Linked DNA regions of Homo sapiens. The protein of the gene in region 1 interacts with the protein of each later gene in a pairwise test. Each region holds a gene or a part of one and is shown in the gene's direction. Other genes may lie near its edges.

What was found.
Region 2: the proteins of CEP68 (region 1) and CDK5RAP2 interact in binary tests that used the Homo sapiens proteins (3 or more experiments, as listed by UniProt).
Region 3: the proteins of CEP68 (region 1) and PCNT interact in binary tests that used the Homo sapiens proteins (3 or more experiments, as listed by UniProt).

Annotation. Positions count from the first base shown.
Region 1 is NC_000002.12:65,049,901-65,060,860, forward strand, and holds the start of CEP68 (centrosomal protein of 68 kDa), read left to right. Parts: upstream 1-6,515; 5' UTR 6,516-6,628; intron 6,629-10,960. UniProt on the Homo sapiens protein: Involved in maintenance of centrosome cohesion, probably as part of a linker structure which prevents centrosome splitting. Required for localization of CDK5RAP2 to the centrosome during interphase. Contributes to CROCC/rootletin filament formation.
Region 2 is NC_000009.12:120,385,855-120,396,313, reverse strand, and holds the end of CDK5RAP2 (CDK5 regulatory subunit-associated protein 2), read left to right. Parts: intron 1-1,675; coding exon 1,676-1,802; intron 1,803-6,526; coding exon 6,527-6,573; intron 6,574-7,021; coding exon 7,022-7,078; 3' UTR 7,079-7,439; downstream 7,440-10,459. UniProt on the Homo sapiens protein: Potential regulator of CDK5 activity via its interaction with CDK5R1. Negative regulator of centriole disengagement (licensing) which maintains centriole engagement and cohesion. Involved in regulation of mitotic spindle orientation.
Region 3 is NC_000021.9:46,408,662-46,419,327, forward strand, and holds part of PCNT (pericentrin), read left to right. Parts: intron 1-2,527; coding exon 2,528-3,406; intron 3,407-4,175; coding exon 4,176-4,331; intron 4,332-7,407; coding exon 7,408-8,178; intron 8,179-9,542; coding exon 9,543-9,645; intron 9,646-10,666. UniProt on the Homo sapiens protein: Integral component of the filamentous matrix of the centrosome involved in the initial establishment of organized microtubule arrays in both mitosis and meiosis. Plays a role, together with DISC1, in the microtubule network formation.

The DNA of each region.
Region 1 (10,960 bases):
AATTAGTAAATAATCAGTGGGGCAATACTTGGGAGTCTGTGTGAATACCTTGTTCCCAGAAACTTTTTTCCCAATAGTTTTAGCATTCATTAGTAATCCTTATCTTGGTTAATTGGTTAATTATTACATTTGAGTTTCCAAAAGGGTAATTGTCTAATCTAACATTCCTCTTACAGTTATCACTCTGTAAAGATGAGCTTTTCTTTTTCTCTCTTTGTTTTCTTATGTTTTGTTTGAGATTGACTATGGACCATGATTTTCAAAAAATTATTATATTATAATCAATTATAATTATAGATTACAAATATTTATTTTACATTAACATTTAATACATTTATTATATATTTATATATTATGTTAAACATATTTATTATATAGTACTATATATTAATATACTTGTTAATATATTTAATATATAAACATATTTTAAATATAATCATATATTAAGCATATATACTTAACTATATACCTAATTATGTTGAAGTTAATTATACATTTAAGTATATAATTATCTCAAATATACTTAAATACAATTATACTTAAAATGTAATTAAATCGTAATTAACATTATTTTTTATTTGCAGATTGTCCCAAATTTGGCCAATGAAAAAGTCCTTCAAGGCCAGGTGTGGTAGCTCATGCCTATAATCCCAGCATTTTGGGAGGCTGAGGCAGATGGATCACCAGAGGTCAAGAGTTTGAGACCAGCCTGGCCAACATGGTGAAACCCTGTCTCTACTGGAAAAAAAAAAAAAAAATTAGCCGGGTGTGGTGGCAAGTACCTATAACTCAGCAGGCTGAGGCAGGAGAATCACTTGAACCTGGGAGGCAGAGGTTGCAGTCAGCTGAGATCATGCCACTGCACTCCAGCCTGGGAGAAAGAGCAAGACTCTGTTTCAAAAAAAAAAAAAGAAAAAAAAAAAAAAGTCCTTCAAGTTGACTTCTATATCTTTTTTTTAAAAAAAACAGCTTTATTGAGATCTAATTTCCCTACCATACAGTTCACCCATTTACAGTACACAGTTCTATGGTTTTAGTTTATTCAGAGTTGTGCAAGCATCATCACAGTCAATTTTAGAACAATCAAATTTAGTTCATTACCCCTAAAAGAAACTGTTACCCATTAGTGGTCACTTCCTATTCCCCTCAACTCTTGCAGCCCTAGGTAACTGCTAATCCACCGTCTCCATAGATTTGCCTATTCTGGATGTGTCATACGAATGGAATCATCTATGTGGTCTTCTGTGACTGGCTTCTTTCACTTGGCATGTTTTCATGGTTCACCCACATTGTATAAAAATGTCCGTCTACATTCTGTAGCATTGATTTTACTGCCATTTTAACATTCCATATTATGGATATACTGTATTTTACTTACCCATTCATCAGTTGATGGGTATTTGGGTTGTTTCCACTTTTTGGCTCTTGTGAATAATGCTGCAATAACCAATCATGTACAAGTTTTTGTATGAACATACGTTTTAATTTACCTTGCATACATATATAGGAGTGGAACTGCTGGGTCATATGGTAACTTTATGCTTAATCTTTTGAGAAACTTCCAGACTGCTTTCCAAAGGGGCTGTATTATTTGACATACTTTTTCTTTTTCCTTTCTTTTGAGACAAGGTCTCACCCTGTTGCTCAAGCTGGAGTGCAGTGGCACGATCACAGCTCACTGCAACCTTGACCTGCTGGGCCCTAGCGATCCTACCATGTTAGCCTCCCAAAGAGTTGGAATTACAGGTGTGAGCCACTGTGCCCAGCCTCCATTTGACATTCTTACCAGCCATGTATGAGAGTTCCAGTTTCTCCACATCTTCATCAACACGTTACCTTTTTTATTATAGCCATCCTAGTGGCTATAATTGTGGTTTTGATTTGCATTTCACTGAGGCTAATGATACTGACTCAGTGTTTCTCAAGGTACCTTTGGTCCCAAAAATTCATGTTTTATTTTATATCCAGAAAACTATCTTCAGTTATAGCTTTCTTTCATTGTTATGTTTCTTTTCTTTGGAGACTTCAATGATGCATATGTTAACTTCTGTCTATCTTCTATATCTCTCACTTTTTTTCTAATATTTTTCCTTCTTTTCCAAATTTGTTTTGGGTTCTCTTGGCTGTTTTAAATTTATTTTCAATGTTCCTTCTTGACTTTTAAGGCTAACCTATTTTCCCGTGGACACAATGTAATTTAGTTTCCATATCTCAAGATTATTTTGGCTTTTTCTTCTACTTCTTTCCTGAATTTCATCAGTTCTCATTTTATAGTTTTCTGCTTTGTGTCCATTTCTATTTTGAGTTTTTTAATGTCTGATTTTTGGTATTCTTTATAGCTACAGCTGCTTACTAAATGATATTTAATTCATATGAAGAATACTGTTAGTTTTCCTCTGCTTTTTGGCTGTTGGATGGAATTGTGGTTGGTGGAAAGAATTTTCATTAGTTAAAATGGTTTTTAATTTTTTTCTTGTAGTTACTTTATATGGATGTTGGTTGCTGTTCTGTTTAGTTCAAAATACCTCGGATCTGACCAGGTGTGGTGGCTCACACCTGTAATCCCAGCAATTTGGGAGACCAAGGCAGGTGGATCAACTGAGGTCAGGAGTTCAAGAACAGCCTTACCAACATGATGAAACCATCTCTTCTAAAAATACAAAAATTACCCAGGCGTGGTGGTGGGTGACTCTAATCCCAGGTACTTGGGAGGCTGAAGCAGGAGAATCCCTTGAACCTGGGAGGTGGAGGTTGCAGTGGGCCAAGATCGTGCTACTGCACTCCAGCCCCAGCTGGGTGACAGAGTGAGACACTGTCTCAAAAACAAAACAAAAACAAAAACAAAACAACCTGTCAATATCACTGGGGAAAGAGTTTGTCAAACTCCAAGGCAATTTTCAGTGAGAATGACACTAAGTTTCAGACTTCAGGGCAATAGGAATGATGTCAGACTTCAATTACATTCCCCATGAAGAACCAGACAGCTAGAGTGTCGCTATGTACTTTTAAAAGATGACTGAGGATGGAGACAAGTGAGTTGGCAGACAGTGGCAACCTCTGGAAGACAGAATCTTCTCTGCTGGTTCCCAGGCTGCTGCTCCGAAAGTCCCAAAACACGCACCTGGCCTCTCCTGCATTCCCACTGGCTGCACCTTGCTCCTGCCCAGAATGAAATCTGGCTCCTGGCCACCAAGCAAGAAGCCACCAGCTGACCAAAATTTTTAATTAAAAAAAAAAAATTAGTTCAAGTGCCCACTGGGAGACAAAACTCTGAACCAATGACCAATAGTTTCTTCCACAGCAGAATATCATTGCTGGTAACAATGGGTGTGGTATTTCTCAAATCATACCTAATGATTCTTCTCAAAATTTATACTTTGCTTTTCCTCAAACCAGCTGGTTTAGATATTTTAGTACAATGCTTTCACCAGAACCTACAACAATGGTTCCTATTAACTGAGAACTGAAATTGATGTGGTCTCCTCATGCCACAGGTCACATGTTGTTTGGTGACTGATTTTGACTCTCAGGAGGAAGTGGGGTTGCTGTTACACCACGGAGGCAAGAGGAGCAGTAATAGAACACAGGAGATCTCCTGAGGCACCTCATCACTCTCATGCCAGGGCACAAGTTGATGGCAATGTACTGTACCACCTACAGACAAACTACAGACAACCTACCTACAGGCAACCTCCTCAAGAACAAAAGCTTGCTTAACCCAACCAGGCAAAGAATCCTGGCCAGCTGAGGGGTTGCGTGAAGGAAAGAGGGACCTGGAATGGTTAGCGGAGAAGGAAAATTGTAAATGACAATAAAGCTTCATTACCAGTTACAAAAATGAAGATCGTAACCTCTAACAGTATTTCCCTTCTTGCTGTATTATATATAAATGGAGTTTTTAGCTATTGTCCTTTTCTTTCATTTCCTTTCTTTTCACAATTGTATCTAAAGTCTATCAGTGATGCTTAACTTTACAATTTAGTCTACACATTACAACGATGGGATGGGATGATGATGAAACTGAAAGGAAGAATGGAACATCACCTACAGAAGTTAGACTTGGGCCAAATACAGTAAATGAGGAGATTTTGAGATGCCCTGCTTTGGGGAAGGGATAAGTAAATTTTGTTATAGGAGAGATGCTCGCATTTTGTTGGATGGCAGCATTTTCATTTACCTTTGAAAGCACTTCTGTGAATGTTGGGCAGCCTAAGAGACGGACTATAGTGAAGCAACTTTTGGCAACCCAGCGTCTCATTCTTCTTATTTGAGGGGAGGCCCCCACACACTGAGTCTTGGTATGAGGCTAGGCCTCCCAGACTAGAAGCCACAGTAGAAACCAGAACTCTCTTTGCCTATTGGCAATCAGAACACAGGCACATAACCTAGACTAGGCCAAGTAAATGGTCCTTCCCAAAACTTGAATCTTAAGTGAGAAGAGTTGAAAAATAATTCATGTCACCACCAAAGGAGCTGGTACGCACCCTAATCAGAGTACCAAAGCAGGATGGCTTAGCTGGTTCCTAACATTTCCAGGCCTGGTTCTCCAGCATTGCTGCTGCAAGGAGTATAACTACAGACAGCTCTAGGCCTACTTTTCCCGCGCTCAGAAACACCAAAAGAAAGAGCCTCTTTCTCCCAGCCTCATTCTCTAAAATCCCCGACAAGGGCTCAGATCATCTCAGGTTTGGTCATGTGCGCATCCCTGGGGAAATCTGAAAACAAGAGGAGGGAGACTACAGCTGGTCAGGCCTGGGTTCCACACCTCCCCTTCTCCACACCCATCCTGCCTTGGGAGACCGGAGAAGTGCGGTGCTAAAGAACCATCTGACCCAGCGGACTGCAGACAATTCCCAAAGGAAAGTTTTCCCGTCAGGCAAAAACAAAAGCTGCTCACAACACAAAATTACAGAACATCAGAACCAAAAGGAACCTTGGGACTCCTTCATCCTATCCCCTCTCTTTATAGATGAGGAAACCATACAGGATATGTACGCCTGTTTGGACTTTGTACAGTTCTCTGTCCAGCAGGGGTGACTTGGCTGTGGGATTAGGTGACTCCACTGGAGGTCTTCTGTGTATAGAAAAGATCAAGGGTCACAAACACAAATGCCTTCAGGTAGGCAGCAAATGTGTGAAGGCTGGCTGTTACTTAATGGACCAGTGGTGGTGGTGGGATTCAAATTCTTATTAAAAAACAAAAGCAAACAAACAAAGAAAAGCTATGCGATGCCCAAATAAAACCATCTGTGGGCTAGCTGCTGCTGTTGTCCAAAGTTTGTGGCCCCTGGGTTAGACAAAACCTCTGAGCTGTCCTGACAGGTCTGGGAAAACCAAACAAGTCCTTGTCTCCTAAACTACCTGGGACTCAAGAGCTCTGTAGGAAAAAATTTGTACCCTGCACCCAGCTGGGGTTGACATTTACAGACGCCTGTTTTATGAACTGGGGAGATATTCAGTTGAAGCCAGATTGCTGAAAGTGCTGCTGAGAGAAAATCATCAGAAGGGAGGGCCTCTTCCCCACGCCACCCTGGTGGTAGTTCCTCTATGCCTCCGGATTCTGCTAAGCAGTAAAAGCTAAAGGGCAGTGTCATTAAGCTCCTAGGGGATGGGATGCAGTGGCTCACACCTGTAATTCCAGCACTTTGGGAGGCCGAGGCGGGAGGATCGTCTGAGTCCAGGAGTTCAAGCCCAGCCTGGGCAACACAGCAAGACCCCATCTTTGCAAAATAGATAGATAGATAGAGATGTATGAAAGTTACTAGGTCCCATGCTGGCAGGGGAGAGAGTGAGCACCCTGGCCTCCCACAAGCTGCCTCCCACTTCCCTCCGACTCCATCACCGATTTCCCATCAGAGCAGGCTGCTCAGAGTGGCTAAGTAGCTACCAGTTCATTTTCCACACCCTTCCCATTCTCCACGAGCCAGAGCTCCACCTCCCCCCAGAAGCTGTCTTCAACCACCCGGCCTGGGGAGCTCCCCTCAGCACTGGCTCCCCGCCCCGCCTCGCAGCACCTGTTCGGGCCTCGGTCGCGCCGCCGGGTCTTGCAGACGCGAATGTAAACAGAAACACAGTGAAAGGCGTTCGGAGAGCCTCGTGACTGCGGCACGGCGGCGAGCCGGGAACATCAGTGCGTCCAGAGCAAAATGAACGAATGTACGCATGACTCCTGGAGCGACCTTCACGAGGGAAAGCGCGCCCCCCGGCACCCACCCCTAAGCGCCCCAAAATGACCAGCCTTTACACAACCCAGCTCGCAGGCGAAGCTGAGGTCGGAGCTCCAAAAGCGAGGGAGGACAGCCGCTGAAGAAGTCCCGGCTTCCCATAGGCCAGGACGAAGTAGGGGGCGGGCTCATCTTGCAGGAGCGTCCACGTATTGGTGGAGCCGCGGACTTAGAGCTGCGATTCGCTGCGCGAAATTGCCGAAAGCCCTCCCGCGGAGGGAGAAGGGGCGGGAAGAAGGGCGTGGTCAGCGCGGCCGAAGGGCGTGGTTGGCGCTCGGTCCTGCCCTGCGCGTTTTGGGCTGCGGTTGGAGGGCCGCAGTTGCAGTCAGGGTCCGCCAGCTCGGGGCCAGCGCATGGGGCTGCTGAGACCGCTCCGGACGTGCGAAGCGTTCGCGGTGCGGTAGGTAGGCAGTGTCCCGCGTGCGGGTGCTGGTGTCGGGGGTGCCGCGGCGCTGGGGGCGGTGGCCCGGGCTAGATCCGCGCGCGCGCCCGGCCCCCTCCCCCGCGTCTCTTCGGTGCCTGCGGGGCCCTTGCGGTGCGGGCCGTCTGGCCTCGCGTCCCCGCCGGCAAGGGCACAAAGGCTCCCTGGGGGGCGGGGGCGCCTCGTGCCTTCGCCTCCATCTTGCGAGCGGAACGGCGTGTGCTGTGGCGGCCGAGGGGTCGGGGCCGAGGCGGGCGGCTGGGCTTGGGAATGCCCGGGCGCGGCGAGGGAGTGCGCGAGTCCGCGCATCTGGCGGCCGAGCAGCTGCGCCGCTGGTCGGCCTGGGCCCCGGGGGAGGTCACTTTCCCTCAGGCCTCTCCCGGGCGTGGGCTGTTTACCCAGCTCCCCAGTCGGGGCTAATGCAGCTCGGGCCTTTCCCCCTGGAAAGATGGAGACCAGTGATGTCTTCTTATCGCCGCGCCCAGATGCGGAGAGAAAAAATCAAGATGTCTCATTTTTTTTGCCTCGGAGGGCTACCCTTTCTAACTGTCATCACTAGAACAGTTCTCAGCAGCCTGGGGACGAATGTCCAAAACCTGTTCCAGGCCCTTGATGATTAGTAGGTTGGGTTTAGTGTATTGTTTGTAACAAAAATGAGCGGAAGCCTGCCAGGGCAGATTGGACCTCACTGGGAATTCATCAGGACCACGAAGGGAGGTAGCGTTTGTAAATAATCTAACAGTTCTCAGATCTAGGGTATGAAGAGTGTTGTGTTAAAGTGTGTAACAAAGGTTGTTGGGTCAGTTTGCCTTGGGTTTAGTTGAAAGATCTAGAAGTCACCACTTTTTACTTTGTTCCCTCCATTCCCCTTTCCCACCCTCTGTTGAGTCAATTCTGGCCCACTTAGAAAACAACAACAACAAAAAACCCAAGGAATTCAGTTTAACCTCTTTTGCGCAAAGCTTTTTAAAGCACTTCCCCACCCTGCGACTGATAACTCCTCCCTTTTTTGGGCTACCTTCTGCAGCCTCTGTTTTTACTCATCACACTGTATTGTGGTTTCCCCAGCCCCTAGCACAATGCTTGGAACATAAAAGGCACTCAATGATGGAAGGAAGCCAAAAGGAAACAAAATCAGCGTGGTAGTCTAAAGGTGACACAACAGAAACATTTATTTAACTTCTTGAGCGAGTTATTCTTACAGGTTAGGAAGGCAGCTAAGCTCAGGCTCTCTAAGTCAAACAGGCTTTAGCTCTGCCATGTTACTAACTCTGATTAATTTTTTTTTTAATGGTGATGGGGGTCTTGCCATGTTGTCCAGGCTGGTCTTGAACTCCTGGGCTCAAGCAATCCTCCTGCCTCTGCCTCCCAGAGTGCTGGGATTACAGGCGTGTCATTAAGTTATTTAACTTCTCCGTGCCTTGGTTTCCTCATCCTTAAAAATGGGAATAATAGTAGTACCTGTGTGGTGAGTTATTAGGATTAAATAAGATATTGATGTATAGTGCCTAATATAGTTCCTGGCACAAAGAAAATGATCAGTAGCTGTTAGCTGTTAGCAGTCGTTAGGAGAAAAATAAATGGATACTTGAATACACTCACCAATATGAAATATCTGTATAGTACTTGACCCTTCAGGATCTCTCTGTTTTTTGGTCCTTATCCGATCCCTTTTTTTGAGACAGGGTCTCACTCCATCACCCAGGCTGGAGTACAGTGGCATGATCTCAACTCACTGTGGCCTCAACCTCCTGGGGTCGAGTCCCTCTCACCTCAGCCTCCCAAGTAGCTGGGATCACAGGTGCACATCACCAGGCCCAGCTAATTTTCTATTTTGTTGTAGAGATGACGTCTCTCTATATTGCCCAGGCTTGTCTTGAACTCCTGGGCTCAAGCGATTACTGGCATGAGCCACGGTGCCTGACACCTTATCCGATGGCTGATTTTTTTCCTTTTTTTTTTTTTTTTTTTTTTTTTTGAGAGGGAGTTTCACTCTTCTTGGCCAGGCTGGAGTGCAATGGCACAGTCTCAGCTCACTGCAACCTCTTCCTCCCGGGTTCAAGCAATTCTCCTACCTCAGCCTTCCGAGTAGCTAGGATTACAGGCACCCACCACCGTGTTCCGCTAATTTTTGTATTTTTGGTAGAGACAGGGTTTCGCCATGTTGTCCAGCCTGGTCTTGAACTCCTGACCTCAGGTGATCCACCCACTTCAGCCTCCCAAAGTGCTGGGATTACAGGCGTGAGCCACCATGCCCAGCCTGATGTCTGATTTTTAAACATCCCTTTAGCCTTTCCTGATTCTCTTTCCACAGTGAAAGTATTCCGTAGAAGATTATCTGTTTATGTGTCTGGAGTCTCACCACCAACTAAAGATTGATTTGGTGCCAAATAGCAATTTGGCCAAGAGTTACAGTAGTACTTGATACATTCTTAACGGGGTCTGTTATCTGAAATGGTCATGTAAAATCAGAGGAGCTAAATAGATGGGGGCCTCATGTGGCTGACAAAAAATCTTTACCTGGTTGATCCATCCAGAAAGAAGCAGAGCTTATGGAGGTGGACTCTCCTTATAACTTAAATCTGTTCTCATGAAGAAACTGTCTCCTATCTTTAATGTTGTTCACCAACATCATGAAAAGCCCAAGAAATGTTCCTGTTGGCTTTAGACCTGTCTGCCAGCTAGAAGTGTCAGATACAACTCCTGGGGGACACTGCGTCACTTCCAGGTTTTCCTGCACCACTTTCTGGTTACAGGAAACAGGTTAAGTTGCACATTTCCTTGTAGCTGTAAGCTCCCTTGGCATATTGGTTTCTCTTAAATTATTTCCAGTTTCCAAAACAAATACCTTTCCCCTCCTCACTTGTAACTGGCACAGGAGAAATTCAGGTCTGTGATTCTGTTTTTAACATAGCCATCATGAATCTCAAATTCTTTCTAGGGAATACTATTATTTCTGGGGACTCCCTTTCAGCTGTGGTATTCTATAATTAGCCATTAAAAACCTGCCACAAGGTGTAAGCCTTTTCTAATGTCCTGTTGCAAAGGCCTTGAAGACAAGGGCCATAAATTTTCTTCTTGTGTGTGGCTGGCATATAGGCACCCAAGGAATGGTTGTAAAGCTATTTTAGTTGTTCCTTCTCAGGGTGCTGAAACAGCCTTACTTACCAACCCAGTGCTTCTGAAACATTTTTCTTACCAAGTCATCTGGAGATATTGCTAAAATGCAGGTTCTCATTCCAAGGTTCTGGGGCAGGACCTGAGAATCTGCATTCCCAACGAGCTCTGAGGTGATGCAGATGCTGCTGGTGCTGGATCACACTTTGATAGTGAAGTGCTAACCCTAGTATCTACATTTGCTTTTTAGAAGTATTGGGTAAATGGGTTTTATTTTCTTATGGTATTGGAATAAAATCTTGGGTTTAGGAGCTTTTTTCTATTTTTTGTTTTAACAATTTCTCTATCTTGTTAAAAAAAAACTATTTGAGGAATTGTTCCAACATACTTTGATGTAATAAGATTTTTAATAACAGCAATTGAGGCACATGGAGTGAAAAAAAAATAGGAGAAAGTCAAGGAAGAAATTAGCACAAAAAGGCAAGTACCTCTCTGTCCTATGCCTTTTACTCAGGTGAGATTGTGTATTTGGCCCTGAGCTTTGTAGCAGCCAAAGCAAAGAGGGAAATTTTTTTTTATCAGTTTTGCCAGTACTTATAAAGTGAAAATGTCTGCTGAATGGAGACAGCTGTTTCTGTTATTGAGGCCAGAGAATTCTCCCATGGCTTCTCCAAAGAGAATGCTATGGTACAGTGAGTGGCAATCTTAATAGTATCTCTTGAGAGCGGTAAGATTCTTCTCAGTCTTCATACGTGCAGCCTGATGACCTCACAAAAAAGTGTCAGGGCCGGGCACAGTGGCCCATACCTGTAATCCCAGCATTTTGGGAGGCCAAGGAGGGAGGATTGCTTGAGTTCAGGAGTTTGAGACCAGTCCGGGCAACATAGCGAGGCCTCGTCTCTTAAAAAAAAATAAATGAATAAAAATAAAAACTGTCAGTATAGTAAAAGCAGTGGTCTGTGGAAATGCACCCATGTGGTCCAGGTACAGCCTCTTCTGACAGTGACTTTTGTTATAAGGAAGGTGTTTTTCTGCTTTGCTCTTTAGTGAGAAAAAAGGTGCTGTTGATTGACATATTCAGCCCTCAGCATCCTTGTACATTGAGCTTTGTTACACATGGACACTCTGCTGACTGCTGAGGAGGCCAGAGAGCTTGGGGTTGAGGGGAGGAGTAGCTGGGACTCAGTCAAGCTCCTTG
Region 2 (10,459 bases), on another chromosome or scaffold:
TGGCCTCTGGAGCCATGACCAGAACCTAAGTCTTTGTGAGCTCTTAGCCCCAAGGAAAAGAATCAAAGCAAACCTAATGTTTAAAATTAGGATCTGTTTGGGAAGAACTGTCAAAGTCCTTGTACCTGACATGACTGGTTAATCTTAAAAGTAGGTTAAGTCAGGGAATCAAAAATGATATGTACCTTAAACATTTTAGTTTAACTTAAAACAGATAAATGTACATTCATTTGCCATTCTTTTGATGTAGGGCCAGGGCCTTTTCTTTTGAATATGGGTCTGCTGATTGGAGTTTCACATCTTCTTTCTTTCATAAACTGCATCCATAATGTATGTCTGTCACTTCCAATTTCTGTTTCTTTAAGATGAAGAGAAAACTTAGACACTTGCAAAGCAATTTGAATATAGAATTCTTCTAGACTGTGTTCCTCCCACATCTTTTATAGTTGTCTCACCCACACCTAATTTGCCAGAAATGTGTTTTTTAGTGACTTGCTTTTATCAAGTCTTTCCTGAAGCATATGTTAGTTTTCATACAACCAGTTCTCTCTTTTAATACACATATTTCATGGGCTTACTTAATATTTAATTAAATTATGCAATTTGATTACAAGTACAGCTACCATAAACAAGTTTGGGAACAAACTAAAGTGACTCTTCGTGAGCTGACAACTCACCAGCTCTCCTGTTGGAAGCAGAAGTGTTTCGGCGCAGCAGAGAGCGGCCTGTGCCACGGTGCTTTTCTGACAGAAAGGGAGTGTCCTTCCCCCTGGGAGCTGGTTTGGTGGAGACTGGCTCAGAGGGCTCCGCCGTGCATGTATGTCACCTCAGAGCACTGGGGACTCTGGTTTTGCCACCCATCCAGAGTTTACTCTGGAAAACCAGAAGAGTTTCTTCTAATGGAGCATACTTTCCTAGTAATACTTTTATATGATCTTTTGAAGATTTAAACATTGAAAAGTTTTTAAAATCAGCATTATAGTTTTTGTAAAAGAAAAAGATCACGCAATTTGAAATCATAGCTCATGGAGAGAATTGCTGTTAACATTTTGATGACATCTCAATATACACATCTATGGATGTGGGCGTTTATATTCAGTTTTGTGGAACAGGAATGCCTTTTATACAGGACGTGTTGTTCTGGGCTCTTTTGTCACTAACTGTGATCATTTTTTGATATCAATGCATAGAGCTCTACAACGTCATTTTTAATAGTTGCTAAATTATTGTATTATATGTAAGTACCATAATTTATCCAGATCTATACTGAAATCAGGTTATTTTTTCCTACCATGAACAATGCTGAGACGAACATCCTTGTACATAGGCATCTTCTTGTGCTTATGTTATTATTCCTTGGGGGAAATGCCAGCGTGTAGAATTGCTGGGGCAAAGAGTTAAGCGCATCTCAGTTTGGTAGATCTTGCCAGGGCGTTCTCACTGGGCCATGCCATCCCGCACTTCCACCAGAGGTCACGAGGTGCTTTCCCCTTACCCTCAATGAGTTTTGTCCAATTTTGCCTTTTCCTGGTTGTCAGGAAAAGGCTTCTAGTTTCCATTCAAATATTTTTGCTAGTGAGGTTGAGCATCATCTTTTTATATGGCTTTGTAATTCTTCCTGTGTAACATGATGTTTATGTTCTTTGTTCATTTTTCTAATTTCTCTTCTCTTTAGATTGGAGAAATGAAGGCAGAGGTCACCAAACTACATAAAAAATTGTTTGAACAAGAAAAGAAGTTGCAAAACACCATGAAGCTTTTGCAGCTGAGCAAGCGCCAGGAAAAAGTCATCTTTGATCAATGTGAGTGAGTGTGGGGGTGGCCGCTATGCCTGACCACTTCCTGCCTCCGAGGGCTCCCAGTTCTGCCCTGGATTACCCACTTTGGAGCCCAGATGGTTTGTAATCATGCCTCCTATCTGTGGGCTTCTTTTCATACTCCATCCTTTCTGACTCACATAGACAAATGTATTCACTTAACACACCTTTGTAGAGCGGCCTTTTGGTGTCAGGGACTGTCGTCTCACTGGGAGACAGTCGTGTGGCATGTGCAGTGATGGGAACATGCAGAGCACTGGGGTGGGAGTTGGGTGGCCGTCACTCTGTCCCGGCAAGGTGGGCGTCTTAGACAAAGTGACCACCTCGCTGAGTGTGAAATGAAAGCAGACGTCGTCACATGGAGCGGGGAGTGGCAGTCCCTCAGGGAAGAGCATGGACAGAGGCACAAAGGCAGGAAATAAGTTTTTGTATGTGAGAAACCAAAACCAGTCCCTGTGGGGTAAAGGCTGCAAACAGTGAATTAAGGTGGGAGGGATTGGGGGTCAGGGAGTACTTCATGAAAGACTGTAGGTGGCAGGCTCAGGGCAGAGGATTGGCCTGTCACATCTGTGTGCAAGAATGGCTCGCTGGTGGCTGCTCCACCAGTGAGGGGGAGGCTGACTCACTAGTCAGACAGGAAAGGTGGCTAGGACGCTGGGGATCCAGAGGAGGGCATGGATTTGAGAAATACTTCTCAAGGCAGATGCCGAGACTCAGGGTTGGTGAGGTTAAGTAACTTTTGTAAGGTCAGTCCCAGTTCTGATCTAGCCACTTTGGAGATTGTTTGGGAGCAGCTCTGTCTCCTGGTTTAAACCCTCAGCACTCCCTCCCGCTGCATTTAGAGGAGCAGGCGGTAGCTGAGTTTCCATTAGTGCCTGTTGGCAACATGGCCCTGGCCAAGCCTGCGCTGTCTGTGTGTCAGTTTCCCTGTCTTAAGAGAACTGCTGACTGCAGCACTTTTTCTCTGGAGGTGCCAGCCTGCCTTGTGCGGCTCTCCTGTCAAAGTCCAACATTTCTGGGGCATTTCTGAGAAGCACAGGACAGAGATTATTGCCAAGTAGGAGTTCTCCTTAGCCACCCCTGGGAACCTTCTGAAAATAGACTCTGTGAGACTGCCAGTGTTTGGACTGCAAAAGAGAGGAGCGCAGCCACTGAGCAGGCACTGAGTTCCTGTTCTTTGCCCCTTACGCCAGGTCCTGGGGACAGAGATGAACGAGACAGTCTTTGCCAGTGAGGGTCGTGGGCTTAATAGGGGAGACACAGAGCTTAGCTGCAGGACGATGTGCTGAGTGCATCCTAGGAGGCCTGAGAGGTGGTTCAAGACTGACTGGGTCTTGAAGAATGACTAGGAATTTGTCAGCGAAGGGGCAGGAATAGGATTCTGGCAGATGGCCCTGTGGACTTGCTGGTGTGCTCCCAGGGGTGAGAGAGAACTGAGTGCTCAGGGACATGCTTAGGACGTGCAAAGGGTTTTCCTCTGAGAGATGAGTGAGAGGGAGAAGCAGGAACCAGGTTGCAAGGAGCCTTGTGGACAGGACTCCAGGACGAGCAGCAGGGACCGGCGGGGTCCATGCGTGTATTACAAGATCCCATGGCTGAGCTTGGAGGGGCCAGGAGGCCGGGAAGACCTCTTTGGGGGCTGCAGCAGTCCCCCAGGTGGGCAGTGGGTCAGGACTGTGGGGGAGAAGGGATGGTTTTGAAAGATTGTAAGGAGGTCAACCTGGCAGAGTGGTGGATGTCTGTGGGGTTCTGGTTGAGGGTTTCGTGTCACTCGTAGAGAAAAAGAGCACTGAGGGGAACCTGGAGAGAGACAGTGCCAGCTGTGGTCCTGTTAAGGCAGCTGTGGAATATTTAGGTTAGACTCTTGGAGCAGCAGTGGGGTGGGGAGCAATGCTCTGCATAGGTCTAGAGAAAGGCAGAACTCTCTGCATTGGCATCTCTCCTCCTCAGCAGCCTTTGGCCCTGAACAGTCACAGGGCAGGTAGCTAACCCTATTGACAGGTGAGAAAATTGCAGAAGTAGGTTTCGATGGGTTGAGTACTGTGGTCGGTCAAAAGGACAGAACTAGAACCCAGATCCCCTGTGTCCTAGGTCAGAGAACATGGAATTATTGATTGAGCACAGTTCAGATCTCCATTCTCCTATGTGACCTGCATTAGACTAGAACCCTAAGCTTTCGATTCCTCATCTCTAACTGGAGACGTGAGTTCCAAAGGACTCAGACTAACTAGTTGGTCCCGGGTTCAATAGCAACTTTATAAAAAGCACCCCAGTTTTCTCATCTGTAAAATAAGGATGATAACGCTACCTAAACTGTATTGTACTTAGCACAGTCTCGGGGGCAGAGGAGATGCTCAACCAGTCCCTCCTCTTTCTTTCCATTAGGCCAGACCAAATCCTATGCATGGAGGTGGCAAATCATTCATAGTAAGAAGAGCCGCAAATGTCTCATAGCACTTCCCCTCCTGAGCTGGTATTGTCCATCTCCATATCTCCTAGGCCTGGCACAGAGCAGGCTCCGCCAGAGCAGGGTGAGGGGCTTGCTCCAGGCAGCATAGCTGGTGGCTGACCCGGGCCTGCAACTCCTCCTTTGCCAGGCTCTGCAGCTCATCCCAAGGAGTCAGGTCCTTGGAAATTCTCCAAGCCCTGCGGACTTCACAGACCTGCTCTGGGTCTAAAGGGACTAGGAGAAAGTTGGCATAGCACCTCCTCTTCCTCCGTCCCCTCATGGTGATGGGGAAGAGCAAAGGCCAGGGCTGATTGCTACCTGGTCAAACTGACACCATACCTTCTCAGAGTCTACAGGGGAAAGTAAGGAAAAGGCATCCCAGTGGGACCCTAAGAGTCCTGATGCCCTGGGGCCACTCACTGGCCATGTGACCTGGAACCAGCTGCCTCAGGTCCTCATTTGCAAAGCGAGGACAGTAGTTCTGCCCCATAGGGTGGGGGAGTATTCAGTGAGGCCACCGTTGGAAACCACCTGTCACCAGGTCAACACTGCTCAGCTCAGGTCGGTACCTTCTTCCCAGCACTCTGCTGAGGTGGGAAGAACCATGGACTGAGTTGGGCAGGCCCACATGTGAGTCCCAGCTCTGTGCTGGGGCCAGTCTAGATTTGGGACGAGTCCTTTGTCGCTGTGTTCCTCGGTCTTCTCCTTGCAGTGGGGATTTCTGTGCTTTGGAACGTGGCAGTGCTGTTGAGGTGTAGGGGTCCCCTCAAAGCTTGAGCCAAGTGATCCTTAGTTCTTCTGCCATGAGCTTTGTTCTCTAGGGACATGGAGTGCTCTTTCACAATCATCTTCAACCTCCACAGCTGTGATACTTAATCTTTTCTGGGTCTCAGGCCCCTTGGTGAATCTGGAGAAAGCTGTGGTCTCTCTGTGGAAAAATGCGGACGTCCAGATACATACCCCCATTTGCACACAGTGTCGGAGGGTTTAGGACTGACCCCCCAAACATATCCAGGGCCCCATGTCAGGAACTTTGCCCTGCAGCAGGAGGTCAGGTTGGGGTAGAGGGGCAGTGGCCACCTCTGAAAGTCGTTTTGCTTGGCTAAAAACAAAGTCCACACCGTCTGTCCCGTCCCCAGTGTCACAGATTGCAAATAAACTCCATTACCTCCAGATGGAAATTTTCGTGAGGCAAGAAATCAATATTTTCTCAAGGCCACCACACGACAGACACCTATTCTGAAGAAGCCACTGGGGAGTCAGGCTATGTGTGTTGGGCGTTGAGTCTGTTACAGCCTCTGGCACTGTTGGCTAAAGGCGCGGCTCCAGAAGCCTTTGGTATTTCCAACGTGGGGAGTAAGCTGATCTTACTCTCACCAAGCCCTGTTGAGAACAGATTCCCTATCAGGCTCAGAACTCTGATCAAGAGGGGCATTCTTGCCACTGCTGGAGTTTGTGTTGGACAAGAAAAAGCCTGAAGGAAGACCCACCTTTACAGTTGCTCCTGAAAGCCAGGGCTCGCCTGCCCCTCCTGGGAATTCTCATGCACGGGGGATCTTTCTAGTACAGTGCTCCGGGCGTCAGTGTCAGCAGGGACCTCTGAAACCATCCCACCCAACCAGCTCTTGTCCAGGCAGAATGTGACTTGCCCAGAGGAATCAGGCTGGGCTATTCCACCAGCTAAAGGGCAGGCAAAGGAGAAGCAGCATGCCCACGGTTTTTTCTTCCAGGCCATTTGGAGCTGGCTCTAAGAGCTGCTGGGTAAAAACCTGGCTTCGTAGAACTTGGACCCTCATATGTGGGTCTGCCTGATCGGGGCACAGTCCCTTCCCACAGCTGCTTCCCAGAGGGCCTAGGAAACTAAAGAGTGCTGGGCAGGCCCAGGCCTCTACCCTCCCTGCGCCATTGCCCTCCCTGGCCCACAGAAGTGAGCCTGAGGGATACCTGGACAGCCAGGTGGCCGTGCACAGCTGTAGGGTGTTCTCTGAACCGGCATAGCATGCTGTAGCCTCTGCATCACTGTCAGGTGGTGGCTTAGCGGGGCCTCAAAGAGGTGTTGTTGATGCGTTATTTGGCCCTGGGGTTTGTGATGGGTCAGGTGGGCCCTTTGTACCTCCCTCTGGTCTGGATGCTTCAGACCTCGTGTTGTCTACATGTCCGAGCCCTTTGGGGTGGGGTTCATCCTCCCTGCACTTGGCTTTCACACAGCTCTCCTGGATATCCATGGCCCTAATCATTGCATTCTTTGCTCTCTCCTCAGTGGTCGTAACCCACAAAATCCTTCGGAAGGCCAGAGGAAACCTGGAGGTATGCCCTTTGAGTCTTTTCACTGCAGGCCAGTGGAAGGTCAGGAGGAGTGCAGGGCCAGAAAGGACCTCTTGAAAAATGAAGGTGCAGGTGGAACCAGGGGACATGTCCTCCTCAGAGAGTTGTTTCTGCCAGCAGTGCATGAAAAGTTGTGTTTTATCATGCCCTGTCGCCAGTAGGGGTTCTAAGTTTTAAATTTGTATGCTATTTTTACCAGTAAGAAATACAGCAAACAATGCTTGACACATAGTAGGCATTTGATGAATATTTCTTGAATGAATGAATACAGTATGATCTCATCGTTGTTTATTAGGTAAATATTTACTGACCAAACTATGTTTTTGAAAGCACTTTGAGAATAACAGTCTCGCTTTCACCTCTGTCGGGGTCTTACTTCAGAAACCTCCTTTGGACTTAAAATTCTCCTTTTTTTTCTTCCTTTTCCTAGCTTAGGCCTGGGGGAGCCCATCCAGGAACATGCAGTCCCAGCAGACCAGGCTCCTGAGAAGAACTTTCAGCCAATAAAGCTTGTGCTTCCCCCACCGAGCTCACGCTGTCTCTTTGTTCCAAGTGTGGTTCCTATTTATTGAGGAAGAAAGAGCTGTCTGGCCAAAGGAAATCTATTTTTTCCCTTCATGTTTTCTCTCTGAAAGTTGGCTTGAGAGTTGTTGTCAGAAAGGTGCAGGTGCTCCACAAACGGGTGGTAAAAAGGCCTCGAGCTCTTGGATGTTGTATTTCAGATCAGGGGCAGGCACCGGAGTTGAGGCTGTGCGCCTTGGTGGGCTTCACGTCTTCCCCTGGATTTGCTTAGTACTCAGCCAGTGCCACAGTTTGAAGATTCTCATTAAATGATTCATTTCATTTCACCTTGACGATTCTGTTGTTTTGTGTGGCGCCTCAAAGCCCAGGTCCCAAAATCCCAAGTGGGACAGGCCAGGGTTCCACGAGTCGCATGGCTCACTGCTGAGCTCGTTCAAGTGTCCAGAGAAGAGCACCTCCGTGCAGCGTGGCCATGGGCACTGGTGTGTGCTCAGCATCTCACAGTCTGCTGGACAGCAGCCCTTGCAGTGGTGCCATTCCCGATTTAGCAAAGAGCAGAGTGAGGCCCAGAGCTGGAATGTGGCATTTGCATTGTTCCCGTGATGACAGGGGTGTGTCATCAGCCATCCACATCGCTGCCTCTGACCAAGATGCCCCCAGCCAAAACACTTTAGCGGCTTCCCACTACCCTCTGATCCAAGCCCGAGCCCCTAACAAGGTTTACAAGCCTTGCTGGCACCTCCAGCTCCTTGCCCATCTCGCCTCCTCCCGCTCCACTCTGTGTTCCAGGCAAACGGAACAGTGTTCTCCCCAGTCTAACCCAGGCTGCGCCCTCTTGGACATGCTCCTCCCACCCTTTCTTTTTCTAGTTAGCTTTGAATGGTCCTTTAGAAATATTTTTTCTGCCCTTGGGGAAGCCTCTCCTGACCCGATACTAGGTGAAATGCCCCACCTCTGCTCCCGCAGCCCCCACACCACTGTGCAAATCCTCTGAGCCCCTGGAGAGCAGAGGCTTGTGTTGACCATGGAATTGCCAGCACCTGACCTGGCGCCCAGCTCCCCAGACACGATGGTGAGGGGAGGAGACGGGATTGCACTTGCTGGAAGCGTAGGGTGCAGCAGCCCCGGCTGGGAGTCCGGGGAGTGGCCTCATGCCACTTTGCCTGTCTCCCCATCCATTAAGAGAGGGGCGGAGGAAGTGGGCAGTACAGACCCTTTCTGCTTCGGTTCCTGCCATCTGTGCTCTTCCTGAGAAATATTTGCACAGGTGTACCTCGGTAGAATACGTACCAGTGTGTGAAAACTCAGATTGAGCCATAATGTCACTGGAGTGCCTTTCGCAAGCAGTCACAACAGTTGACTTCCTAAATGGAAGCTGGGTCGGTGTGGCGCTGTGGAGCAGGAGGCCTGGTTCCCGTCCCGAGTCTTGTGCTTCTGTAAATGAGAGTTACTCTTGTCCAGTACTGTTACAGAGTTCGGAGCCTCAGATTTTGAAAGCAGCTGAACAACAAGGCCCTTTCCACAAATCGGTGACTCTTCTTCACTGTCTCAGTGGCTGGTCTTAAGCAAGTTTTAAAGTACTGTTTTAAGTTCTATGGCTGTGTTGTGCCAAACCCCTATTAACCTCAGTAGGGGAGGCACCAGGTTCAAGGGGCCTGAGAAGAGACCCACAGAGCCAGCAAACAGGATGTGGGCTTTATTAGGGGCTTACATACAGGGGAACAGTCCAGAGGCGGCAGGCTGGACAGGAGAACTGCTTTTCGTACAGAAACAGATGGTTCAGTGGCAGCGGCTGAACAACACAGCCCACGGCCCAGGTGGGGCAGGAAAACCATCACCACTTATAAACAGCATGCAGTTTATATAGCATTTTCACTTAACCTTCCCCCAAGGACCTCTACCTGGGAACCTTTTTTTAACCCAAAACTCAGGGCCTCAGTTCCCTGTACAGCCCATGTCCCATGAGACGGGCTTGGGGGCTCAGATACTCCTCACAAACAAGGAACAAATCTCCGGGTTGGCCACTCCTAGATTCTCTAGCTCAGAACAACATTAAGACGCGTCTGCCATACAGGGTCGTTCTAAGGTTGTGCTTAAGCTATTGCTGTCAGGGTGTTTACCCTCCAGGCAGGTGTGCGCAAATGTAAGCATGTGTGGTTGCGGGGGCAGTGGGGAGGAGGGGAGGAGGTTGTACAGTGTAGTAGATGCAGCTCAGGCAAGGCCTGGAAGTCAGACCTGGGCTCAGATGTCCCCACAGGGGAAGAGTCCTACCTTGCCTGGCACATGGTCAGTGCACAGCCCATGGGAGCTGAACTTGGTCATTGGCAAGGGCTTGAGGTGCAGGGATTGGAGGAGAGATCCACATTGGATTCTGGTACATCCCAGGCCCGTCTGGTTGGTGAACCCAGGCACGCCTGGAGCAGGAGCTGCAGAGGAGGGGCTCCAGGAGCCCAGCTGGCCATTTGCTTCAGGTCACCCACAGCTTTTCAGGAACACAATAATCTAAAACGAAGTGCATTTTTATCCGCCAGTTTAGAGTCACGTAAAATACTTTCAACCTTGGGCTAGTGAAGGCCCTCCCTCTTCTGGGAGGTGGAGGAGCAGCCTGGTTTGTTTGGGCTGGATTAATGCCAAGAACAAACTGCAAATAAGACAATTTGGACCTTGGAAAAAGCTCCATTGTCCCTGGTGAGTTAATTTTACCAGCAGCTGAATTCGGGAGGCTTTGAAGCAGTAATCAGAAAATGCGTCAATTTCCCTTCAGTGAAATTAATCACCACGTGTGCTGGAGGAGCTGCACCTGAGAGAAACAGCTGCAGGGACTAAATATATAGTGAGAGGATTGGGAGACAGGCCCAGGGCCCCCTGCTTGCCCTACCTTGGAAATGGTGCTTTTATCTCACTTCCGAGGCCCACATCCCAACGTCCCTATCGGGGTCCTGGAGAGTAAAATCCTCGCGCCTCAGGCCGGCGCTCACCTGGGATGGCAGTAGCCACACTGTGCATCTCAGTAATCTGCACCACCTCACCCATTTTACAAATGAGAAGACTGAGGGATGTAGCCAGAATTTGAACCTGAGTCTGTTAAAACCTGATGTCCCTTGGATTATCAGTATTCCCCCAAAATGCCATCTCTTCGAGAAACTGCAGCATTTCCCTGTTACAAATCGAAGTATTCTCAGTCTACCCTTTCCAACAAAATGTCTCTGGATGACCAGAGCAGGAGCCCAGAGACCCACAATTGAATTCCTCAACACAGCAGCCCCGAGAACTGCTTGTAAGTGGGTGGTGGAAGGGAGAAAGAGTGATCTTGTTAATAAGTTCTCGGCATTGTGGAAACCGAGAA
Region 3 (10,666 bases), on another chromosome or scaffold:
TCTATGCTATTTGCCATCCATATTGTGGGGGAAATGTTTGCTTAAGTCTTTCAGAAAGTTTTTTTTTTTTTTTTTTTTTGAGACAGAGTCTCATTCTGTGGCCCAGGCTGCAGTGCAGCGGGAACGTGTCAGCTCACTGCAACCTCCACCTCCTGGGTTCAAGCAATTCTCCTGCCTCAACCTCCTGAGTAGCTGGGATTACAGGCGCCGCCACCACACCCAGCTAATTTTTTAATGTTTTTAGTAGAGACGGGGTTTCATCACGTTGGCCAGGCTGGTCTCGAACTCTTGACCTCTGGTGACCCACCTGCCTCGGCTTCCCAAAGTACTGGGATTACAGGCATGAGCCACCGTGCCCCACCTCAGAAAGTTTTAAAAAGTTGGATTGTTCGGTTTCTTATTGTTTTGGGAATTCTTTATATCTTTTGAACGCTTTTTTTTGATACATGATTTGCAGGTATTTTCTCCCAATGTATGGCTGGTCTTTTCATTCTCTTAACAGTATGTTTTGCAGAGCAAAACTTTTTACTTTTTTTTTTTTTTTTTTGACAGAGTCTCTCTCTGTTGCCCAGGCTAGAGTTCAGTAGCGCATTTTTGGCTTGCTGCAACCTCCGCCTCCCAGGCTCAAGCAGTCCTCCTGTCTCAGCCTCCTGAGTAGCTGGGATTACAGGCACCTGCCACTATGCCCAGCTAATTTTTGTATTTTTAGTAGAGACGGGGTTTCTCCATGTTGGTCAGGCTGGTCTCGAACGCCTAACTCAGAAGATCCGCCTGCCTTGGCCTCCCAAAGTGTTGGGATTACAGGCGTGAGCCACTGTGCCCCGCCAGATTATACTTTTGAAGTTCTGAGAGCTCTTTCCCTAGCCCAATTTTCCTGAGAAATTTCATAGTTTTACTTTGCATTCAGGTCTCCTTGAATATGCTTGCATACGCTTTTTGCTTTTTATTTTTCTTTTTTGACACTATCTTGCTCTGTCGCCCAGGCTGCGGTGCAGTGGCGCAGTCTCGGCTTACCGCAACCTCTGCCTCCAGAGTTTAAGTGATTCTCCCACCTCAGCCTCCTGAGTAGGTGGAACTACAGGTGCCCACGCCCGGCTAATTTTTGTATTTTTACTAGAGACCAGGGTGCACCGTGTCGGCCAGGCTGATCTTGAACTCCTGTGCTCAAGTGATCTGCCTGCCTCAGCCTCCCAAAGTGCTGGGGTTACAGACGTGAGCCACCGCGCCCGGCCTCAGTTCACTGATTTCAGGTTTTGGTGTTTTACATTTAGAGCTACCTTCGTATGCTGGCTCCAGTATTTTAACGTGATATATGCGTTGTGATTATGACCGTCTTCAGTGCGCACCCCTTGATTCCAGTTTATTTAGTGCATTTAGGGAATGAGCAGAAGCTGCGTATAATCAGAATTGTCCTCGAAATTCCTTCGCGTGCCTGTAGAGTACAGAGACAACGGCCGGTGCCGCACACAGTAAGGCACGCGACGGGGAGCAGAATGTGCAGCGGGCATTCCTAGCCCGCAGCTGGGAGGCTGCTTTTGCTAAATGCATGGTGTTGTTCATCGGTGGTAAATGCATAGGAAGGTGTTGTTGACAGCGTCCAAACCAAAGCCACAGGTTCATCCGGTTCCTTTGTTTTTTTTCTGTAGGCCAGATTTGCATTTGAGTCCAGAGTAATTGTGAGGTAGTTCCAGAGAAACCTGGAGTTGTTATGAAACCCTCAGTTTTTTGGAAGAACATATTAGTCTATAACAAATAGTTTTAAAATTGTTAGAGCACAAATGGATTAGAATTTTTCTATTTTTTGTCATTACCAGGAATGTTATCTTAAGAGAATAGAGTTTGGAGCTATATTGACATACATCTCAATCCTAATTTTCCACTTACTGTTTTTATGGGTTTAGAAAGATGTTTAATATCTCAGTTTCAATTTTCCTGTCTTTAAAGTGGAAACAATCGTATTTCCTTACATGGCTGAGGATTATGTTTCATGGCACAAGTAAACTCACTTCGATGCCTGGTGTCACCGAGTGGCAGTGGCAGAGACGCCTCATCACCAGCGTCACCACGAGCAGTGTTGGGATGGAAGGGGAGCGTGCCCGGCTCACCGCTTTGTTGGTGCAGATTCTCTGCCTAGGTTTCTTACTTTCCTCCTGGAGTCAGAATGACACCTAAAATCTAATGCACCTTCAGGAAAATCAAACAAATCAAAGTTGTTTAAATATTAACAAAATAACATTTAAAGGGTGGTGAAAGCATCATTCTGTAGATGTCCTTGCATGGAAAATGACTGCATTAGAGCTTCGTCCCACGATCAGACGTGGAGCACAAGGTGTGCACCAGGGCCCAGTGGCAGCCAAGGTGGGTGTGGAGTGCATCCGGCACCAGCAGTTTGCTTCTATGGCTGCTTTGTTTTTCACGCTATGGAGTCTTCACTCCAAGAATGCATTCAGGATGTAACGTGCCCTGAAGTAGGGACATTCGGAAGTGGATACATTTAATTTGCCTCTGAAATGTCCTCTCTCTTCAGGTCATATATACCAGAAGTTCTGAGATTGAAGAGCTGAAAGCCACTATTGAAAATCTGCAAGAGAATCAGAAACGATTACAAAAGGAGAAAGCAGAGGAAATTGAACAACTCCATGAAGTCATTGAGAAGCTGCAGCACGAGCTGTCCCTCATGGGGCCTGTGGTGCACGAAGTCAGCGACAGTCAGGCTGGCAGTCTGCAGAGCGAGCTGCTCTGCTCCCAGGCCGGGGGCCCTCGTGGGCAGGCCCTACAGGGCGAGCTCGAGGCTGCGCTGGAAGCCAAGGAGGCCCTGAGCCGGCTGCTGGCTGACCAGGAGCGCAGGCACAGCCAGGCCCTGGAGGCCCTGCAGCAGCGCCTCCAGGGCGCAGAGGAGGCTGCGGAGCTACAGCTGGCTGAGCTGGAGCGCAATGTAGCCCTCAGGGAGGCTGAGGTCGAAGACATGGCCTCCCGGATCCAGGAGTTCGAAGCGGCCCTGAAAGCAAAGGAAGCGACGATTGCCGAGAGAAATTTAGAAATCGACGCTCTGAACCAGCGGAAGGCGGCCCACTCTGCCGAGCTGGAGGCCGTCCTGTTGGCCTTGGCCCGCATCCGCCGCGCCCTGGAGCAGCAGCCCCTGGCAGCCGGGGCGGCGCCTCCCGAGCTGCAGTGGCTCCGAGCGCAGTGTGCCCGCCTCAGCCGCCAGCTGCAGGTGCTGCACCAGCGGTTCCTGAGGTGCCAGGTGGAGCTGGACAGGCGGCAGGCCCGCAGAGCCACAGCTCACACACGGGTGCCCGGGGCCCACCCACAGCCTCGCATGGATGGTGGCGCCAAGGCCCAGGTCACCGGCGACGTGGAGGCCTCCCATGATGCTGCTTTGGAGCCGGTTGTCCCTGACCCACAGGTGGGCTCCCCCCGCGGGCCATGGCAGGGTATTTTTTTTTACTCTCCTTTTCTCCTTTGATGTCAATGACTTCTCTCTGCGCTGGGCACTGGGGGCTGCAGTTGTCATGGTGGCTCATGACACAGCGGAGAAAGGGGGCCTGAAGCTCGGGCCAGCCTGGGCCTGTTCCGTGTCAGTACGCAGTGAAGCTGGGCTGAGGATTTCACTGTTTTGTACCATTTTAAGCTTATCGTTTTAAGCTTTTAAAAACAATTCTTTCTTTCACATAATAGGGACTGTCCAGTGAAACGGAGCTCACTATGTGAGGAGGGTCCGCTTAAGCTGCTTCTCTGGTTTCTAACCAAATGGTTTGTCTGTCGATGAGCAGTGCCTGTGTGAGATGTGGCGAGCGAGCTCTTCTTTTGGAGCTGGAGGCCCTGTAGGGAGTCGTCTTTTAAGGCTTCCACTTGTATTTGAGCAGAACCTTGGGAACTTGGTGCCTACCACCCCCACACCAGCTGGGTCTTTGTAGAGTGGCTCCCACTCTCAGATGCCCCAGTCCACCTTGCTCTGTGGGGTCGTCCTGGGTCGGGGCAGCTTTCTGCTGGGTCCTCAGCCCCGTTCCCATGTGGCCTGCTGTGGACCAAGGTGCTCGGCTGTGGATGTCACTGCCACCTCCCTCTGGCATCCCTGCTGGCTGCCGTACTGGTTCCCAGCTCCAGGCCACCTGAGGGGCAGCCCCAGCAACAGCCTCCTGCATGCTCAGCTTTCCTCTGTCTCCTCTGTCAAGGGTGATCTGCAGCCTGTCCTGGTGACGTTGAAGGATGCACCTCTCTGCAAGCAAGAAGGCGTGATGTCAGTGCTCACCGTCTGCCAGAGGCAGCTGCAGTCGGAGCTGCTCTTGGTGAAAAATGAAATGCGCCTGAGTCTGGAGGACGGCGGCAAGGTGTGGGGAGGGGGGAAGGCGCGAGGTCCCCCCGGGAGAGGCTGGACACGCGGCAGCAAGGTGTGGGGAGCGGGGAAGGCACGAGGCCCACCCGGGAGAGGCTGGACACGCGGCAGCAAGGTGTGGGGAGCGGGGAAGGCACGAGGCCCACCCGGGAGAGGCTGGACACGCGGCAGCAAGGTGTGGGGAGCGGGGAAGGCACGAGGCCCACCCGGGAGAGGCTGGACACGCAGCAGCAAGGTGTGGGGAGGGGGAAGGCGTGAGGCCCCCCTGGGAGAGGCTGGACACGCGGCAGCAAGGTGTGGGGAACGGGGAAGGCACGAGGCCCACCCGGGAGAGGCTGGACACGCGGCAGCAAGGTGTGGGGAGGGGGGAAGGCGTGAGGCCCCCCTGGGAGAGGCTGGGTGCAGAACATGTGGGTCTTGCCCTGGGCAGAGGCGGGTATTCTGCTGAGGTGAGGAGCACAGTCCGTGCCTGCAGTGACATGTTCTCTGAATCCTTTCTGTTCTGTAACGAGCTGTCCATAACTGTTGTGAAATTTCGTACGTGCTTCATTTAAGCCACTCTGTAGAAACAATCAGTTGGGTTTTTTTCTTGTAATTGATCCAAATGGATTTAACTGTGCTCGAGGGTTAGTCCTGGTTTGTCTTTTCATGGGAGGACCACATCGCCCCCGTGGGCCTCACCTCAGCTCAGGACTTTGATGGCCAGCGTCTGTTTTACTTTGAAAGGCCTCAGATTTATTCTTGTAATCTGTTCACCTCACTCCATATTGTCACTTGAAAAAAAGCTGGCACTTCTTTTCCCCGGGGAAGGAGGTTGCACCTTGACCATCTCAAATTGTAGCAGGGTGGAGATTTAGCGAGAAAAGCGGGTGCTGGTGCTTCTCCCACCCAGTGCACCAGGGGCAGGTCCCCAGTGCCCCTAGGAAACACCTGCGCAGGAGCTGCCCTCTCCTCAGGCCGCATCAGGTGCAGATGGCACCTTTATTTTTTTTCTCTCTTTTTTTTTTTTTTTGAGACAGAGTCTTGCTCTGTCGCCCAGGCTGGAGTGCAGTGGCACGATCTCAGCTCACTGCAACCTCTGCCTCCCGAGTTCAAGTGATTCTGCAGCCTCAGCCTCCCGAGTAGCTGGGACTGCAGGCATGCGCCACCACACCCAGCTGATTTTTGTATTTTTAGTAGAGACGGGGTTTCACCATGTTGGCCAGGCTGGTCTTGAACTCTTGACCTTAGGTGATCCACCCTCCTCAGCCTCCCGAAGTGCTGGGATTACAGGCGTGAGCCACCACGCCCAGCCTTAGATGGCACCTTTTGATGCACTGTCTGCACCTCGCCTCCTCCAGTCCAAGGCCCAGCGCAGCCTCCCTGGACACACAGCCACCCACCCTTCTCCTCCTTCTCCTCTGGGACACACATCTGTCCACCCTCCTCCTCCTCCTCCTCCTGGACACAGTCGCCCACCCTCCTCCTCCTGGACACACAGCCGCCCACTCTCCTCTTCCTCCTCCTTCTCGACACACAACCACCCACCCTGCTCCTCCTCCTCCTCCTCCTGGACATGCAGCCGCCCACCCTCCTCCTCCTGGACACGCAGCCGCCCACCCTGCTCCTCCTCCTCCTCCTGGACACACAGCCGCCCACTCTCCTCCTCCTGGACATGCAGCCACCCACCCTGCTCCTCCTCCTCCTCCTGGACACACAGCTGCCCACACTCCTCCTCCTGGACACACAGCTGCCCACCCTCCTCCTCCTGGACACGCAGCCGCCCACCCTCCTCCTGGACACACAGCCGCCCACTCTCCTCCTCCTGGACATGCAGCCGCCCACCCTGCTCCTCCTCCTCCTGGACACACAGACACCTACCCTCCTCCTGCTGGACACACAGCCACCCACCCTGCTCTTCCTCCTCCCCCTCCTCCCTGCTGTTTGCTAAATGTGCCCCAACTACTCCTCCAGGCTCTGAAACCCAGAGGCTCTAACACCAGAAGTGCTGGGCAGGTGTTTTATGGTCTCTAGGGTGGCACGGAAGCATGCTTGGTGCTGAAGCCTGCTGAGACCTGGGCTCACCCGAGCCCCTCGCAGCCCTCGTGAGTGTCCCGCACGTCGCTGGGACGTTTCTTGCATGAGTGCAGGTGCCGCCTGTTCCTGGGTCCACACTGCGTGCACCTCATTGGCGTTTAGAGCCTGAAAGATTCTTAATTCCACAGAAATCAGGGAAGGATGGGCCTAGGCCCGCAGTTCTGAGGAGACCCATGAACCTGGTTCGTGTGCTTGTCATGTGCTCTCGGGAAATACATCCTGTGTGGAGAGCCCTTCGCATCTCCTGCGGCAAACAGTCTTGGGGCCCTCATGACAGGAACGTTTCTTTGAATTTTTTTTTTTTTTTTTTTTTTTTTTTTTTGAGACAGAGTCTCGCTCTGTCGCCCAGGCTGGAGTGCAGTGGCGAGATCTTGAGATCTTGGCTCACTGCAACCTCCACCTCCTGGGTTCAAGCAATTCACTGCCTCAGCCTCCCGAGTAGCTAGGATTACAGGCACCCGCCACCATGCCTGGCTAATTTTTGTATTTTTAGTAGAGACAGGGTTTCACCATTTTGGCCAGGGTGGTCTCGAACTCCTGACCTCGTGATCCACCTGTCTCAGCCTCCCAAAATGCTAGGATTACAGGCGTGAGCCACTGCACCCGGCCCAATTTTTTGAATTCTTAAGAGAAAGCTCAGCCCTGCCTGCCAAATTCTTAGAAGTTACACACACAGAAACTCCAAATTCATCACATAAACCACAATTTTGTGTTTTCGGTGCTCAGATATAGAACCTTCCCATCCTTTTTCCCTTGTATGAAGCTTGTGTCCTCAATCACCGCAGAAATAGGTTATGACAGTTGCCTTTTAAGCAAGGAGATGTAAGCCTTGGTTCTGTTTCTCATAGAATTAAATAAACTTGAAATGTGCAGGGCTCATTGTGGAATCACCCGAGTGCTCCGAAACTCCCTGAAATCCACTCATTAACACCAGACAGGTGCGACTCCTGGTGAGCCAGGTATTCCACCGTGCACCTGTTCTGTTTCACCTGCAGGGTAAAGAAAAAGTACTGGAAGATTGTCAGCTGCCGAAGGTCGATCTCGTAGCTCAGGTGAAACAGCTTCAGGAAAAACTGAACCGTTTGCTGTATTCCATGACCTTCCAGAATGTGGATGCTGCCGACACCAAATCTCTGTGGCCCATGGCCTCAGCACACCTGTTGGAGAGCAGCTGGAGTGATGATTCCTGTGACGGAGAAGAGCCTGACATATCACCCCACATAGACACATGTGATGCCAATACAGCCACGGGGGGTGTAACTGATGTTATCAAAAATCAGGCCATAGACGCGTGTGATGCCAATACAACCCCAGGGGGTGTAACTGATGTTATCAAAAATTGGGATTCCTTGATACCAGATGAAATGCCAGATTCTCCCATTCAAGAAAAATCAGAATGTCAGGACATGTCTCTTTCTTCACCGACCAGCGTACTTGGTGGCTCCCGCCACCAGAGCCACACTGCAGAGGCTGGGCCCCGGAAGAGCCCGGTCGGGATGCTGGACCTGTCTTCCTGGAGCTCCCCTGAGGTCCTCAGGAAGGACTGGACCCTGGAGCCCTGGCCCAGCCTCCCCGTGACACCCCACTCAGGAGCCCTGAGCCTGTGCAGTGCCGACACATCCCTGGGGGACAGGGCGGACACCTCGCTGCCACAGACCCAGGGGCCGGGGCTGCTTTGTTCCCCAGGCGTGTCTGCAGCAGCGCTGGCACTGCAGTGGGCCGAGTCTCCGCCGGCTGACGACCACCATGTGCAGAGGACGGCTGTGGTAGGTGCCTGCTCTGCTCCCAGGCCTGCTGTTCCCGTGGGAATGTGGTCTGCCCGGCGCCACGGCAGCTGCCATTGTTTGTTCACCTCCTGACAGCACACACCTCGCAGTGCTGTGTGGGGCCAGCTCTGCAGGACTGGCATCATGGGCGCATTTAGATTATTTCAGTTGTTCAGGTATTTTTAAAATGCCTGAGATGCATTTGCCTGCCTCAGACATACCCTGGGCATGCTTCTCCACTGACGCTGACTCCAACGGGCATAGCCCAGACACGTCTTCGTGTGTGATGGGCATAGGGTTCTTTGTCCAGAATGGTTTTTTAGATTTATTTTTAGGAATGCTTCCTTTTTTTTTTTTTTTTTTTTTTTTTGTGAGATGGAGTCTCGCTCTGTCACCCAGGCTAGAGTGCAGTGACGCAATCTCGGCTCACTGCAGCCTCCGCCTCCCCAGGTTCAAGCAAATCTCCTGCCTCAGCCTCCCTAGTAGCTGGGACTACAGGCACACGCCACCACACCCGGCTAATTTTTGTAGTTTAGTAGAGACGGGGTTTTACCTTATTGGTCAGGCTGGTCTCGAACTCCTGACCTCATGATCCACCCACCTCAGCCTCCCAAAGTGCTGGGCTTACAGGCGTGAGCCACCATGCTCAGCCAGAAATGCTTCATATTTTTAACAGGTTTCACATATGCTAATTAATTTTAATTTATGAGTTAGATCGTATTATTTCTAACATAATCATTTTGGGATTTTGTGTATCTTGAGTAAGATAAAATTAAAAATCAGGTATGGTTGGGCTCATGCTTGTAGTCTCAGCACTTTGGGAGGCTGAGGCGGGAGGATTGCTTGAGCCCAGGAATTTGAGACCAGGCTGGGTAACACGGTGAGACCCTGTCTCTACAAAAAAAACACAAAAAATTAGCTGGGCGTGCTGGTGCCGCCCATGGTCCCTGCTCTTCAGGAGGCTGAGGCAGGAGGATCACTTGACCTTGGGAGGTTGAGGATGCAGTGAGCCAAGATTGAACCACTGCACTCCAGCCTGGGTGACAGAGTGAGACCCTCCCTCAAAAAATAATAATTTAGCAGATACATATTATCTGAAACATCCATATACTATCATTTCATGCAAAACAATTTAAATCTGAAATATTTACTATTGGCTACATTAAAATATTCCTAAAGAGCTGTGGGTGAATCTGATTAAATTGTTGGAAGCATTCGACCTGTGTGTTCACCAGTTTTGAGTTGTTTCATCTGGGGTCTATGTGGGAAGATAAATTCAGGCCTTTGAAAGTTTTCACCTGGCAAAGTCAGCGCTATGATGTAATTACTCATTATTTTATGACCATTTAAAAATCTCTTAACAGGAGAAAGATGTCGAAGATTTTATCACAACATCCTTTGATTCTCAAGAAACATTAAGTTCACCTCCTCCTGGATTAGAAGGAAAAGCTGATAGAAGTGAGAAAAGTGAGTTGGTTATCTTTCATTTTTAATTTTTTATTTCAGTGGTTTCCTAGCACAGAATAGTCAAAAGAATTCCTGCATCCTTTGCCTGGTTCTGCGTCTGCCCCCCGCTGACCTCCACCCCGGCTCTGCGCTTTGTCGGGCGTGCACCTGGGGCCTCTTGACTTCTGAAAACACGCCTGTACCTTTCACAGAGCCAAGGTTGCTGGCCCGGGCCACGCTCCACCCTGGAATGTTCACCCTGATCCAAGGCTGGCATCTCAGCTACAGCTACAGACCTTGCTCAGATTCACCCATTGTCCCAGTAGTGTCCTTTATGGAAAAGACACCCCAGCTCACAGGCTGTGTTCAGGTGTCTTTGGCAGGATGGAGACTGGGGCGGTGCACGCCATGTTTCCAGGCTCTGCTGCCTTGCCTGCCCACCCTGCCTTTCCCTCCCCTTGGGGTGGACGTCCCTCTCTCTGCTGTGGGTTTCGGGGCACCGGCCCTGGAGAGGAGCCGAGGGGCCGCTGACTGTGGCGTGTCCTCGCGATGGTGCGTGGGGGGCTGCGTCTCCCCGGACCTCGTGGCGGGAGGTGCGTGGGCTTGACTTGGGCCTTTGTCTGTGATGGTGCCTGCCAGGTTTCCTCCACCTCCTTCTGTGGGAGATGCGGAGACTGAGTATTCTCTTCCCTCTCATGCTCACGCCCACTGGTCTCAGCCTCCCTTGGTTGCCCTGGCCCGCATCAGTTGTTGTGGCGGTTACCTGCCACACCGTCCTTTTTTTCATTTCATAACTTTTTCTATAATTGTTGTCTTTTTACAAGTCAGTCACCTTTTGAGGTGCTCTAACTTTTTAAAAAATCTGTTGGATTTTTCAGCGATTTAGTGTTTTTTGAGAACATGGTCACAATTTAATTAGAAATTTTAGTATTTGCAGAGTAGGGCCAGCAGCTTTTTAATTTTGTTTTTATTTATTTGATGAATAGTGAGCACGCAGGGTGACAGTTATGGGTGCTGAGGGGACCGTTTCCTGAGCAGCCTG